Linked DNA regions of Homo sapiens. The protein of the gene in region 2 purifies or fractionates together with the protein of the main gene of each other region. This does not show direct contact. Each region holds a gene or a part of one and is shown on either strand. Other genes may lie near its edges.

Region 1 (10,462 bases), on a different chromosome or scaffold from region 2:
GTAAATAAATGGCTTTTGGTTCAATAGTGGCAAAAAATAAATATAATTCTTAAGATGTATGAGAACTACTCATTTTGATAACAGCATTTATGTAGCAGGCTTACTTAGCTCTGTAAGAAGTAATAGTACAGAGAAATGCAAAACTGTTAAGAATGACAACTTTTACTGGCATTGAGCTAAAATGATTATTATGACAAAAGGTGATAGATCTATATAAACATCATTCTCATAATAAATTTGTAATGAAAACATAGAAGGAAAAAACAAAAACAGGTAGGTACTTATAAAACTGTAACATATATGTCTAAAGTACAACAACCAGAAACATATTTCTAAAAAAAGCATCATTTTGAAATTAAAAGGCAATACCAAAAGAAACATCTCATATTTTCCTACTTAACCATGTGAAATTCCAATGAGATAGGTCTGTAGAAGTGTGAAGAAACATGTTTTAGGGTAATTGTTCTGACTACTTTTTAAAAGCACCCCAAGATAATCTGATTTATTCCTATGTCCATAATCTTATATGGACAACCAATCTTATTGGTTAAATTTCTATAACATGTTCTAATCTTAAATATCACATGTATTTAAGCCAAGTTTGATTTGTATTTACATGTTTCACAGGAAGTTCAAGTGTATTAGCCGTAGGAGGTAAGACAGGTTCAGGGCCTGAGTACTGTAGGCTTGTGAAAAAGAAGCCTAAATATTTCAAAAGTAGCATACATTTTAAAAGACAACTAAATATTAACTGACTTTCACTAGTAACCTGGGAAAAAAGGATTAAATTTTTTTCCCCAAGAGTATATCTTCTCTTTTATCCATTCTGAAATGTGGAATTAATTCTTATCTTTAAAGAAATGAAATTTTTTAATAGGTAATTTCAGTGTTTAAAAAACTAATACTTACAGCTTTCTTTCCTAGTTCAGTCTTTGACAATGTTAAGGATCCTGCAAGATAGCATCCAGGTCCTGCCCCTTTAGGTATTCTAAACAAGAGAATTCAAAGAGAAAAAAAGCAACAAAAGAGAAAGTTTCACAAAGACAAGTAAGGGGAAAAACATGAAAACAATTCCACACTGAATTCATTCCCATAGCTAAGACTTCAAAAATCAAAGGAAGAAATACTTCAGCCAAAAAAAAAATGACTACATCCTCTAAATTTAGCCTAGATGTCATAAACTGACATTAAAAGGACTACAGTGTATACGATGGGCAGTAAGTATAAGCAATGTTATCACTTACTTATCATCAGGTAAGGAAGTAACAAAGAATGGCTGGTTATATTTGGGTGGTAATGTCAAATTGCTTGATTTCTTCTTCCCTAGAAGTGCAAAACTATGATTTTCATGAATATCTAAGCTCAAGGTATTAGACAATCTATGAGAAACAATAAATGGAAGGTCTTTAAGGCGTTCCAAATCACTGATTTGCTCATGGCGAATCTGTAGTCGAATTGTATAATCTCCTTTCTCCAGTTTCAAAGAATACTGAAAAAGAAAAACAACATTTGGGAAAAGTTAAGTTTAACCAAGTCAACGGAAATCACTGAAAGAGGATAAAGTGAAAGTTACCATTCACAGACTTGTTCATAATATGTGAGGTACAGTGCAAGGAACTAACTATCCAGACGTTCATATAACACATAAAGTCCCTAGTACGCTGGTGAGCAGACAGGATCAGGGACATCAAGTGACTTGCCTAACATCACACAGAGTAAAGTATAAGAGAGCTGAAGTCAGGTCTGACTTCAAAGCCCTCATTCTTTCCAGAACGACAGAATACTCCCACACTTTTAGCAAAACTCAGTGTCTGCTTGAGAATGACAAAAGCAGTGATTTTCTAGTTCATGGGTCCCTCAGAGACATATAAGAAACACTACCAAAAAAATGAGCAAAATTGAGGCACCATAGAATATCTAGGACAAATACACACACACACACACACACACACACACACACACACACGTGTAACTTATGACTACTGGTAATCCTTATTTCCTTTTAGAGAGGGGGACTCACTATGTTGCCCAGGCTGAAGTGCAGTGGCTGTTAACTGGTGCAATCATAGTGCACCATAGCCTAGAGCTCCAGGGCTCAAGCGATCCTCCCACCTCAGCTTCCTGAGTAGACGGGATCACAGGCATGTGCCACCATGCCCAGCTGATCTTCAAATTACAACCAAAATGTCACTCCTTTATTACAGACAGGAAAAAAACAGGAAACCAATAGAGATCAAGGGATACAAATCTATTATCCACTTAACAGGTTCAAGAGGAAGAGATGCTGTATCCTGTGTCAGCCACTTTTTCTGAGATTTAAAAAGTAACCAAAATAATAGCACTGCAGTAGGCCAGTCTGTAATGAGATGTGACTGCTACTTGCTTTGAGGAAAATCGATACCATTCCTTTAACAACTAATTGAAAAAAATCTCCATAAATTATTTTCATTTGTCAACATAAAATTATACATATTACAGGAAATATCTCATTTCTTTGCAGTAATATCTAAGGGATAAAATGTCTATAAATTATGTGATTTTTCCCTTCAATAAAACAGCACAAAGCATAGTGCCTGGTATGTAGTAAGTGCTCATTACAGAGTTGTCCAACGAGGTAGTAAATTTAAAAGTACAAATGAACTGAAGACATGCGGCCACTGCTGCAGTGCTCTCTTTAGCCCCCTCAGACTTAGGATCATTTCAAGAGGCTCGCATCTCTTTGATGCATGCTTTGATGATTCTACCTTCAGATAGGTAGAATCAGTGTATAGGAAGGAGAAACACCACACACCAAAAGTTATGCTGGCCAGTGTGGGCAAGGTTCACCCTTGTCCTCCTCTAATTCAGCACAACTACATGGTGAAATAGTTGACACCATCTGTTCTTCACCGACTACAACAAACAGGCTCTCACAGTTTGCAAAAGTACTAAACACAAAGCTATAATTTTTGTTTTTTTTAAAGTATGAACATTACCATAACAAGAAACCAGGATTTTGTTAGTTCAGGAAACAGCTTCCGTTAATTCTAAAAATCACCATCAATTTTATACCTGATGTGGATAGGCATCGCCTGAACCCATCTGTCTTTTGTTCTGGTCAAAAATAATCCACAGTTGGCTGTCAAATTCAGATTCATATAATAGTTCACAAAGTAGTGGGCAGCTTGGAGTTACTTCCCCACTCTTGGGCTATTAAAAAACAAAAAAGATTACTTGGCATGATTTGCATATAATTTCTGATACAAATTTTTAATATTGTTATTGACATGAGACTTTTTCATTTAAAAAACATTAAAAATACTTGTGGTAAAAAATTTTGAAAATATAGAACACACAGTATTTTAGCACTTATAAAAGTCACTGCTCTCTTACAAACTTTTAAAAATACACACCTGGCTATGTGTATTCATTAATAAAGCAACATATACATACTTCAGGACCTCTAATTACTTTATAAAACTGAAATGTGAAAATTCACTGAAACCAATCCATTTCCCTAACATTATAACCAAACTGATGTGTGTTTCAGTAACAGTTTTATTGAAATCTCATTGATCTTACAACAATTCTTTGGTCCAGCATTTACACTGGCCTCCATTACTTTTGCCACCCATCCCACCTGGGAGCTACTCTGACCTTTCCCTGTTCCAGTGCCTTCTTCGCAGAAAGCAATCAGGCCCAGCACCATCACCAGAAGGCAGATGGTATTTCTGAGCCATCTAATCACCCCTGGGTCAGATGGCACCAATGGACAGTGATCAGTGATTTTATAAACTAAGGCTTAAGGCTAGGTCACCACTCAATTACATTTTGTGACTTTACAACTGAATGGTATTTAATTACAAATTATAATTTCCTAAAGAGTAATTCCAAATTAACTGTTAATCACTTGATTCTGTTTTTTATATATACCATATACACTGTCCTTCCATTTTTGATTCTATGAATCATAAATAAAACACAAAAGTTCATCCTAAGGGTACACTTTACTAGGCAAACACTTACTTGATGAAAGTTATATGTCAGGACCATCTCATAAAGTTGACGGTTATTTGGCAAAACATCTCTTGATCCTAAAGGTTTTGTTTTTGCACTCACTGGGCTGTAATGAGGAAACTACATAACTGGTTTGATTCAAGAGTTCATTGAATGAGACAAATAAAACCATATGCAACAAAATCTGTAACATATTGCAAAAAGTGCAGATGAACCTTCCTGAGAGCTATCCTTTTCAGTATACTCTACAATATTTTAATCACTAACTTACATAATTATTTGATTGAATCATATCAATACATACAGTTTAGATTTTGCAATAAATATGACAAAGGCAATCTTTTCATGGCAAAAACATTTTCAAATGTGAACAAACAGCTCTCAATACAACCAAATCCTAACACTAGGGTGACAACTAAAAGTGTTGCAAGACAGGTTCTGATTTGTACCCCTTGTGCAAACTGTTGACAGTACTGTGTTGTGTGCAGCACAGACCTCCCCAGACCCCTGCTGCTCACCAGATGGCAGGGGCCACACTCAGCCCTCCTCCTGGCCGAGGGAATGTTATTTCATATTTTTAGTAGTCCTCTGAAGGAAGTTGCTAATGTACAGATTTTATAAAGGAGAAAACTGACACTGAAGAGTAAGTTTTAAATATAGTTTAAAATGTCAGTGAAACATAATCTACTCTAAATTTAGCTCCAATTTTTTAGATTTAGGAAGAAAACATCAGGATGATATAAGTTGGATATATCTTCAAAAGCTGGATGTTTTAATTTTTATTGATAATTCTAGGAAGCAGTATATCTTTAGACATCACCGTGTCACTGACTATTGTCCCTAATTGGTTATTTTAATACACTTAAGACTAGGCTTCATGCCGATGAGTTAAGGTCAGATTAAACAAAAGAAACCAGGTATCTTTATAACACAGTGAGTATGTGAACACAGGTCAAGGTGCCCTGCTTTTGTAAGGGGAGCTGCTGAGGCACAAACAGCAGGCTACAGTACTTAAGTTTCTACCATTTAATAAACAGTTTCTAATGGTATTGCAGTTTCTAAAAATGACTGCATTAGGATTCACAAAATAATATCAGAGAGAATGTTAACTTGCTATTTTACAGCAAGAAATAAAAAGGTTAATGTCCACTGATCCTAACTAGTCATGACTGGGATCGGCTATCCACCATCCTTGACTTTGCTGGTCAGGTGGGACAGTGAAGCTAGAAGCTGATACTGGGGCTGCCTTGCAGAGATCTGCTGGCAAGGATAAAATTCTCACCTCTAGCATGCAGGTGGATTAAAAAAAAAAAAGGCCCTTTTTTAAGAGTGTAAGAGATCCCCCCAATCTATATTCAATATCTGTAGTTCCTAAAACATTGAATGATACCGCAGTGTTTGGACCCAGTTCTTCAAAGTTATGCAGGGAGCCAGATCTTCGTATTTCAAGGAGGACTGAACATCAAAGCGGTTGATTCCTTCCGATGCATGCTACAAAGGATTTCTCAAATTACTTTCTCAAACTTTACTAAAAATAAGCAATATTTTGTACCTAAAATAAATGTGTCCAATATAAAGTTTATAAGTACCCACACACAAAGCCTACTGCTATCTTCAGAACCACAGGTAATTTCCCCTCATTAAAGTTTAAATCTAACCAATGAAGTTACTCTCCAGTAACACAAGTAACTGACATTAAAAATCATGAAAATGTTGTGGAACTTACAATGTTTAACTGAGGAGCAGTACACACTATCCCATGGAAAGAAATGGTATAATCAATGTTGACATCACTGAGACTTGCCCACCAACGAGCAATGCAAAATTCAATTGCTTTTCCACCCTGCAAATAAAAGTAAATAAAATATATCTCTTTTCTTATTTTTCTCAAATTACAGAATATAAATACTAGCTGTTTCAGAGCAATTCTGTTTTCAAACTTTTCCTGTTTGTAGCAAGAAAACTCAAAAATTTTAACAGCTATGCTAAGTAAGAGTTAGACAAATCATTTGCAGAGATATGGTGTATTTAAATATACATAGTTATTTACTCATAACCCTATGCTTCTTGTCATAAAAGATCCTAGGCAGCTTCTGAAAGCACATATAATAAAGCAAATGTGATTTTATTATTTCGAAGTGAAATAAAAAATTAGGACCAAAAGAAAAATAATCAAGTATAACGACACAATAAAGATACTTCAACTTTGTAAGGCATACTCAATAGGCACAATTGAGTTTGGGCTCACAGCTACCTGGCAACCAAAACAAAATGACATTATGGTCATTTACATCTTTCTCCCTATTAAAAAATAAAGATAAGGAAAAGGAAAAAAAAACACCTGCTCTTAGCACTGAGTTTTAAAGTAAGTTTTCTAGTAATCAGTGATTTAAAAGTTTAAAAAGATGAAGCAACACTGATCCATGGAAGAACACAAATGAAAGTAACCAGAAACCAAGAGATACTGGGAAAATCCCAGAACCAACTGAAAACACAAAGGAGCGCATTGAAGGAAGAACATCAGTACTTTCACCTTCTATGGAAGAAAGACTAGTCATCATTTCCAACACCACAGATAAGAATGCAGTCTGCCATCATCTGAGATAACTTAGACATGAAGCAGTAGCAGTTTTCCTATAATGCAAATTAGCCTCATAGCTTAACAACACAGCATTAGTAAAATAAGTTAAGTGACAAGCAAACAGGTCTTAAAGAAATTAATCTATAGTACAACAAAGAATAATCTAAATCAGGGTCCTAACTACAAGGCACGAGAATCTACCAGACTAGTATGTTTCTTTGACTATGCTATTCAAGAATTACAGCCATAATTACCTCCAACTTGATTTCAAGTACCCTGATTAGATTTTCTATTTTTCTACTTCATTTTTTTGGCATTAAAAAAATATATAATCCCAACATGCTAAATACAAACTATAAAATCAAATGCAAATACTTAGTCTTAGCCCATACCAAAAAGGCAAATAAATTGTGTTAGGATTATAAACTATAATTAAACTTACTAGGACAGGAAAAGCTTCAGTCAGTGTTCCTTTCTCTGGAAGAGAACAAAACTTATAGAATTCATGGCTTCGATATGCTCTTTGCTTCACAAGCTGGACTGCATGTAGAACAAACTTTGCTGACACCTCAGAAGAACACGAACACACTGTCACTTCTAAAATAAGAAAGAAAGAAGCAAAGCTTTAAACTTATAAGACCTAAAATTGACATAAAGTGGCTTTAATAATGCCCACTTAGGGATAATTCCCATGTAGGGACATAATAGGGATCAAAAATAAAATGTACACTCAAATCTGCATATTTCCATAAAAACAAAGAATCAACAAAATATTAATAAAGGTAGAAGACTAGAAGATTTTCTATGGGAACGAAAGAAACTGGTATTAAAATGAACCACCACCATGAGGCTGCAAACACCTGGAAACAGCAAGCTGTCCATAGATGCATACACAATTACATTAATCGGGTACCTTTTAAAATCCCTCCTTGTTTTAGCTGAAAACCAGTCAATTCCAGATAAAGTAAGGAAGGTTATATTTTTGGAAACCTCTATTTGTTATCATGCCTCAATTCCTCATTGATAACTTTTCCTAATCTCTCTTCTTGGTCTACTTGTGTACTGTGTGCGTCTACAAAGCCTGGCACGACTACTTATGCTTAACTTTACTCTGAGCCAGCGCTGGAGGTAAGCCAAGATCACCGCAATGCCAGATTGGCAGCTTTTCTAAAGAACACCCAAGCTAATTCAAGGGAACTGAAGCAAGGCGCAATGCCGTGGCTCATAAAACCAGGTGTGCAGAGAGCTCTCAGAACCTAGTCAGTTGCTAAGAATACAAAATCTAGTGTTATGACAATATTTCTAATTATTTGAAATAAAACTAAGACTGTTAAATTCTCTTAACTACTTGCATTCTAGATCATTTGATAATTTTTATTTAAAAAAACAAATTATTTTCAATACCAACCTAAACCAATCATAAATCAGTGCCATTTATCACTAAACAAGTACCCAATTCAGTATTAATTAACCATAGATTTGTATTCTTTAATTTACCAGTGCACATTTTACCAGAGCCTGGAGCTCTACAAGTCCCAGGGGCCCTATGAGAATGGGACCCCAGGAATGCTGAACACAGCAACTCTGACTCCACCCTCTAGAAGTACTGTCAAGTGTGAGCGTAATCCCAACGAAGACAAGCTATGTACCAAGTACTATAAAATCCCTAATCCTTACAACAGACTAACGACTATATTTACAGTTGAAACAGAAGTCCAGAAAATTTAGAAACCTGCCCCCAGGTAACCATTAGCGTATGGCAGAGTGTGGATCCAAACCCAGACTTCTCAATTTCCAAAGCCCGTGGCCTTGCCGCTACTCTGTGCTGCCTCCCTCTAATCCAGTTCTCTTAACTGCAATATCTTGGACTAGATGCTCTCAAGGCCTCTGGAAGCAGGGTCCTTGTCTAAGTAGCTCACCACCTTAGCCCACTGAAAAGGGCCTGGCACAGATGGTACAGAAAAATATGCTTAATGAATGAGTGTAGTACAACCCGATTATCCTCAGAAGCCTCTCACTGCTGCAATAGCTCCATTATAAACCAGTGTGCAAATTAACAGGCTATATTGGGTGCTGTTCAATTCACTGCTTTAGCTCTCAGCTTTTGCTATTATTTTGCCTTTACCTAATTACAAAAAACAAGAAAAGTCTGGTATTTCCTGTGATACCAGGTGACAAACAGATGGACAGCATACAGATAGATGACCAGAAAATGGTATGGGGAACCAAATACAACCAGTTATTCCCAAACCAAGTCATACATGTGTGATTTCAATATTTCATTTTCAATAAAGTCTCAGATGTAAATATATCTGTACTTTCATACAAGTACAAAAAACACACTCCTAAGTAAAATACAAGCCATTTTTACTAATGACACCTATCTACCTTATAGGGTTCTGACGGGACTAGACAAGATAATCTCTGTAAAGTGCTTAGCAGAGGGGCCAAATCCAAGAAGTATCAACAATGCTGGCTACTAATTTAAATTGGGTGACACTTTCTTGACTGCCCGTATTTGCTTCCTTCTATCAATGGGAGTGAGCTCTGACAACTGACATACCCTTCTATACTGACTGCTAAATTGTAAATTTAGGACACACAACTTGTGAAGGAAAATATGGTACACCCACAGCTCTTGTAAAAAAGAATGACATGAGCACTCTCACAGGACTATAACATGTTAATTCAAGAGCTTTGTGTTAGGCAATCATTTACTCTCAAAATTTCAGAGACACTGAAGTGAAAATCTTCTATAAACAGAGCTTCAAAGATTAAAGCTCTATTTCTAAAATTCTGAGAGTTTAACAGTTTGAGGTTTAAGCAACAGCTGCATTGTTTAAACTGATTTGTAGTATTTTAAAAATTAGGCCGGGCACAGTTGCTCATGCCTGTAATCCCAGCACTTTGGGAGGACGAGGCGAGTGTATCACGAGGTCAAGAGATCGAGACCATCCTAGCCAACATGGTGAAACCTCGTGTCTACTAAAAATACAAAAAATAGCCTGGCGTGGTAGCACACGCCTGCTAGTCCAAGCTACTCGGGAGGCTGAGGAAGGAGAATCGTTTGAACTGGGGAGGTGGAGGTTGCAGTGAGCCGAGATCATGCCACTGCACTCCAGCCTGGCGACAGAGTGAGACTCTGTCTCAAAAAAAAAAAAAAAAAAAAAAAAAAAATTATTACCAGGTAAGGCATTATTCTAAACTAAGCTCAAACCTTAAATATTAAAAACATCTTAAGATGGCTTAATTTCCTGTATGGGCCAATGCAAAATTGTACTAGATCTTAAAAACGTTTTGAACTTTACAGAAAGTCTAAGGTACCCAAATACATATATTAGTACCAGGGAAATACATGCTACAGATAAACGAACCTCATACAGCTATAGTCATTAGAACGTAAACAGAGATAAGCGGTCACACAGATTTTAATTTTACCTACCAGCCCATGTTGCACCCTCAGGAACCTCAATAAAATGCCTTCGAATTTGACCAGGTTTAAAGTGTACATCTGTAAAGGCTAGATCATAATGTGATGATTCATTTACTCTGAAAATTAATAAAAGTAATTAAATGTATATATTTATTATAAGACCACAGATACTCTAGATTTCATTGGATAAACGCAAAATAACAATTCATTGGAAATAAACACAGGGACTTAGAAGCTGGTTACAAAACAGTAGGTACGATATTGTTCAATTTTTGCAGTAGGTTAGCAGAGATAACCTCTGAATAGCAGAGTATAGATGATTCTACTTTTTGCCTATTTTATGATTTGTAAGATACATTCACACACACTATTAAAAAAGCATTCTCTTTTTTGTTAAAGGCATTCTACAACATTCACAGAATTTTCCAATTACCAGATTCCAAACTACAGTG
Region 2 (2,676 bases):
GGTGAGGAAGTCGGCACCGGGCAGCGGGTCCCGTTTGGGGCTCACTGGCTCAGAGGCAAATTCTAACCACCTTATCAGGTATGATGGCTGCGCAGACACCCCTCCCCAACCCTCCCGATGCTGACCTGCCGAAGGGACAAGGAAAGGGTGCACAACCGTGCCTGGGCTTCTCTGCTGGTGGCCTTGCAAAACCCCAGCAAGGCAGGGGAGCGCCCGAAGGAAAACAGAGCTGGTTCTTAGAGTATTGTGATTGCATTTTTTCTGATAAAGATAGCACACTGCTTGTCATAAGCTGTTTCCCTTGGTTTCTGTGTTTCTTTTCTAATCAAATTACCCCAGTTGACACACATTTAAGCAAATAGTTTCATTTCAGGTCACGGGGACTTAGCCCTGCAATCAAGGAACTGAATGAAATTCCTGGCAAAATACAGTAATTAGAAACACAATGAAAGCAGAATTGAAATGTCCCAGCCTCCCCACAACACCAAAAGGAAGTCTGGTTAATTTCCAAATTATATTTAGGATCAACAGGCAAGGGGTTCTTTTTCATACGGGCAGAGAAATTAGGACCAGACATCATTACAATAACCACACAAGACTAGGAATGTAATTATAAAATAAACCATACCCTAGCAAGCAAATTATTTTAATGTGTTTCAAGAATTGAATACTCTGTATGGAATTAAAAACAAAGAGAAAAAAGCAACGTGCAGAAAATTAATTAAAAAGAGTTAAGACACAGAAACTTCGAAATGTCATAAAATTACAAATACAAAAGCAACAAATTAAAAAACATACACGATTGCAGATTTCAGTAACATCAGTAGCCAGAACATACCCAATGAATCACTTAATCATCAAATATCTCGCTGATTTTGAAAGGGGGCTAGTGGTTGATGATTTAACCTCAATCAATCCAAAGGACATGACTCTTTCCTTACATTACAAGCAATCTGTAAAGATGGCTTTAAGTACCTTTGAAAAGGTGGAGTGTCCTTTCTCAAAGGAAACAGACAAGGAAGGGGTTATCCGCTCTGCCCCCCCACTACCGAAATGTGTACATTCATTCAACTCTGGTAACTAAGGCAACCAAAGGACAATTTCTTTTCTTTTTTTTTTTTTTTTTTGAGACAGTCTTACTCGGTCACCCAGGCTGGAGTGCAGTGGCGCAACCTCGGCTCACTGCAACCTCTGCCTCCTGGGTTCAAGCGATTCTCCTGCCTCAGCCTCCGGAAGAGCTGAGATTACAGGCGACCACGACTGCCTAATTTTTGTATTTTAGTAGAGACGGGGTTTCACCATGTTGGTCAGGGTGGTCTCAAACTCTTGACCTCAGGTGATCCGTCCCCCTTGGCCTCCCAGAGTGCTGGGAGTACAGGCGTGAGCCACTGCGCCCGGCCCCAAAGGACAATTTCTTGAGACCCCCACACACCTTCAGAACCACACATTCTGTTCATGTTAAAAACAAGAAATTAACAACCTCTAAAGCTAAGGACAATGATTCTGTAAAGTGCAAGAATGGTTCATTGTTTCCGCTTTTGTGGATTTCATGTTAAGAATACTTTAAAAGAAAGGGTGGGCGGGAGTAAACCAGGACCCCAGTCATATATTTGATCAAGAAATGACCCGTATGGCAAAGGTGAGACGTGGACCAGCCCTCAGGTGTCTCCAACTCTGTGCACACCACTGAGGTAGGAGCTCTAGAAGAAACGCAGACCCTCTCAGGGGGGTTAAGGTTTCCTCTTGGCAAATGAGCTGGGGGCCTGAGACAGTCATACCCACGGGCTGCATGCAACTTTGCATGCAACTTCACGAAATTCTAGAGCTGTATCACATCAGCGATGGAGAAGGGCAAGATCCAAGACAAAGCCACATGAGGCGAGGTCCTGGTGCTGCCATTTGTTGTCCAGCACAAATCAAGGGGCCGGAGGAAAGGGATGAGGTGGAAAACCCCGGCAGGCATTCTACAAAACAGTTATTAGCAAATTGTATCAAAAAGTATCAAAACATTTCAAAAAACTCTAAAAACTGCCAGGCTTGGCAGATGCGCAGGACAGGGTCTCCAAGTGCCCGTGGCGCTGCCCTATACTCCAGGCATTTATCCTAGAGGCCAGGATGCCACCCCCTCCCCTCCCCTCCTGGGCACTCAGAATCCACGGAGACACCAGGAGGTCTAAACCTCATCTGCAGCTGCCCCTCCAGGTTTGGGACCAGTGGACGGGGTTCCAACCACGGGCTCTGACAGCCACAAGGCCCATGAGATGCTGCTGCACCATGGAGGACCAGGGTGAAGGATGAAGGTCAGTGACTCTACAGGGGGTGGTGGGGGGTGTGGCAGGGGTCCCCTCACTTCCCACATTGCTGCAAGTCACTGAACGATCACTTGGCTTAGGGGCCGAGGTACACTGAACCACAGGTGAACACAACTGAGCTCACAAAGTAGGCCCCTGGACCTCAGAGGATGGACCCCACTTCCCCTCAGCATCTGGATGCCCACCTCAAAGGTGAACACCCCTTAGGGTGAGTTTCTGGGTCTCCATGAAGTCACCTTATCATGAGTGAGGGCACTCAATATAAATACACACGTGTGGTCCTGCTCAGAGCCAGGTCTGAAGTCCCACTTGATAGCCTCAATAAAATGGCAGAACAATAAAAATACCAATTGCGTGCTAACCA

The links.
Region 1: the proteins of KLHL36 (region 2) and TPP2 purify together in Homo sapiens (affinity purification with mass spectrometry; 2 studies listed by BioGRID and IntAct, with this or other methods). This does not show direct contact.

What each region holds. Positions count from the first base shown.
Region 1 is NC_000013.11:102,639,934-102,650,395, reverse strand, and holds part of TPP2 (tripeptidyl-peptidase 2), read right to left. Parts: intron 10,127-10,462; coding exon 10,020-10,126; intron 7,175-10,019; coding exon 7,020-7,174; intron 5,840-7,019; coding exon 5,723-5,839; intron 5,488-5,722; coding exon 5,387-5,487; intron 4,103-5,386; coding exon 4,006-4,102; intron 3,190-4,005; coding exon 3,052-3,189; intron 1,490-3,051; coding exon 1,245-1,489; intron 989-1,244; coding exon 910-988; intron 1-909. UniProt on the Homo sapiens protein: Cytosolic tripeptidyl-peptidase that releases N-terminal tripeptides from polypeptides and is a component of the proteolytic cascade acting downstream of the 26S proteasome in the ubiquitin-proteasome pathway.
Region 2 is NC_000016.10:84,665,511-84,668,186, reverse strand, and holds the end of KLHL36 (kelch-like protein 36), read right to left. Parts: 3' UTR 501-2,676; downstream 1-500.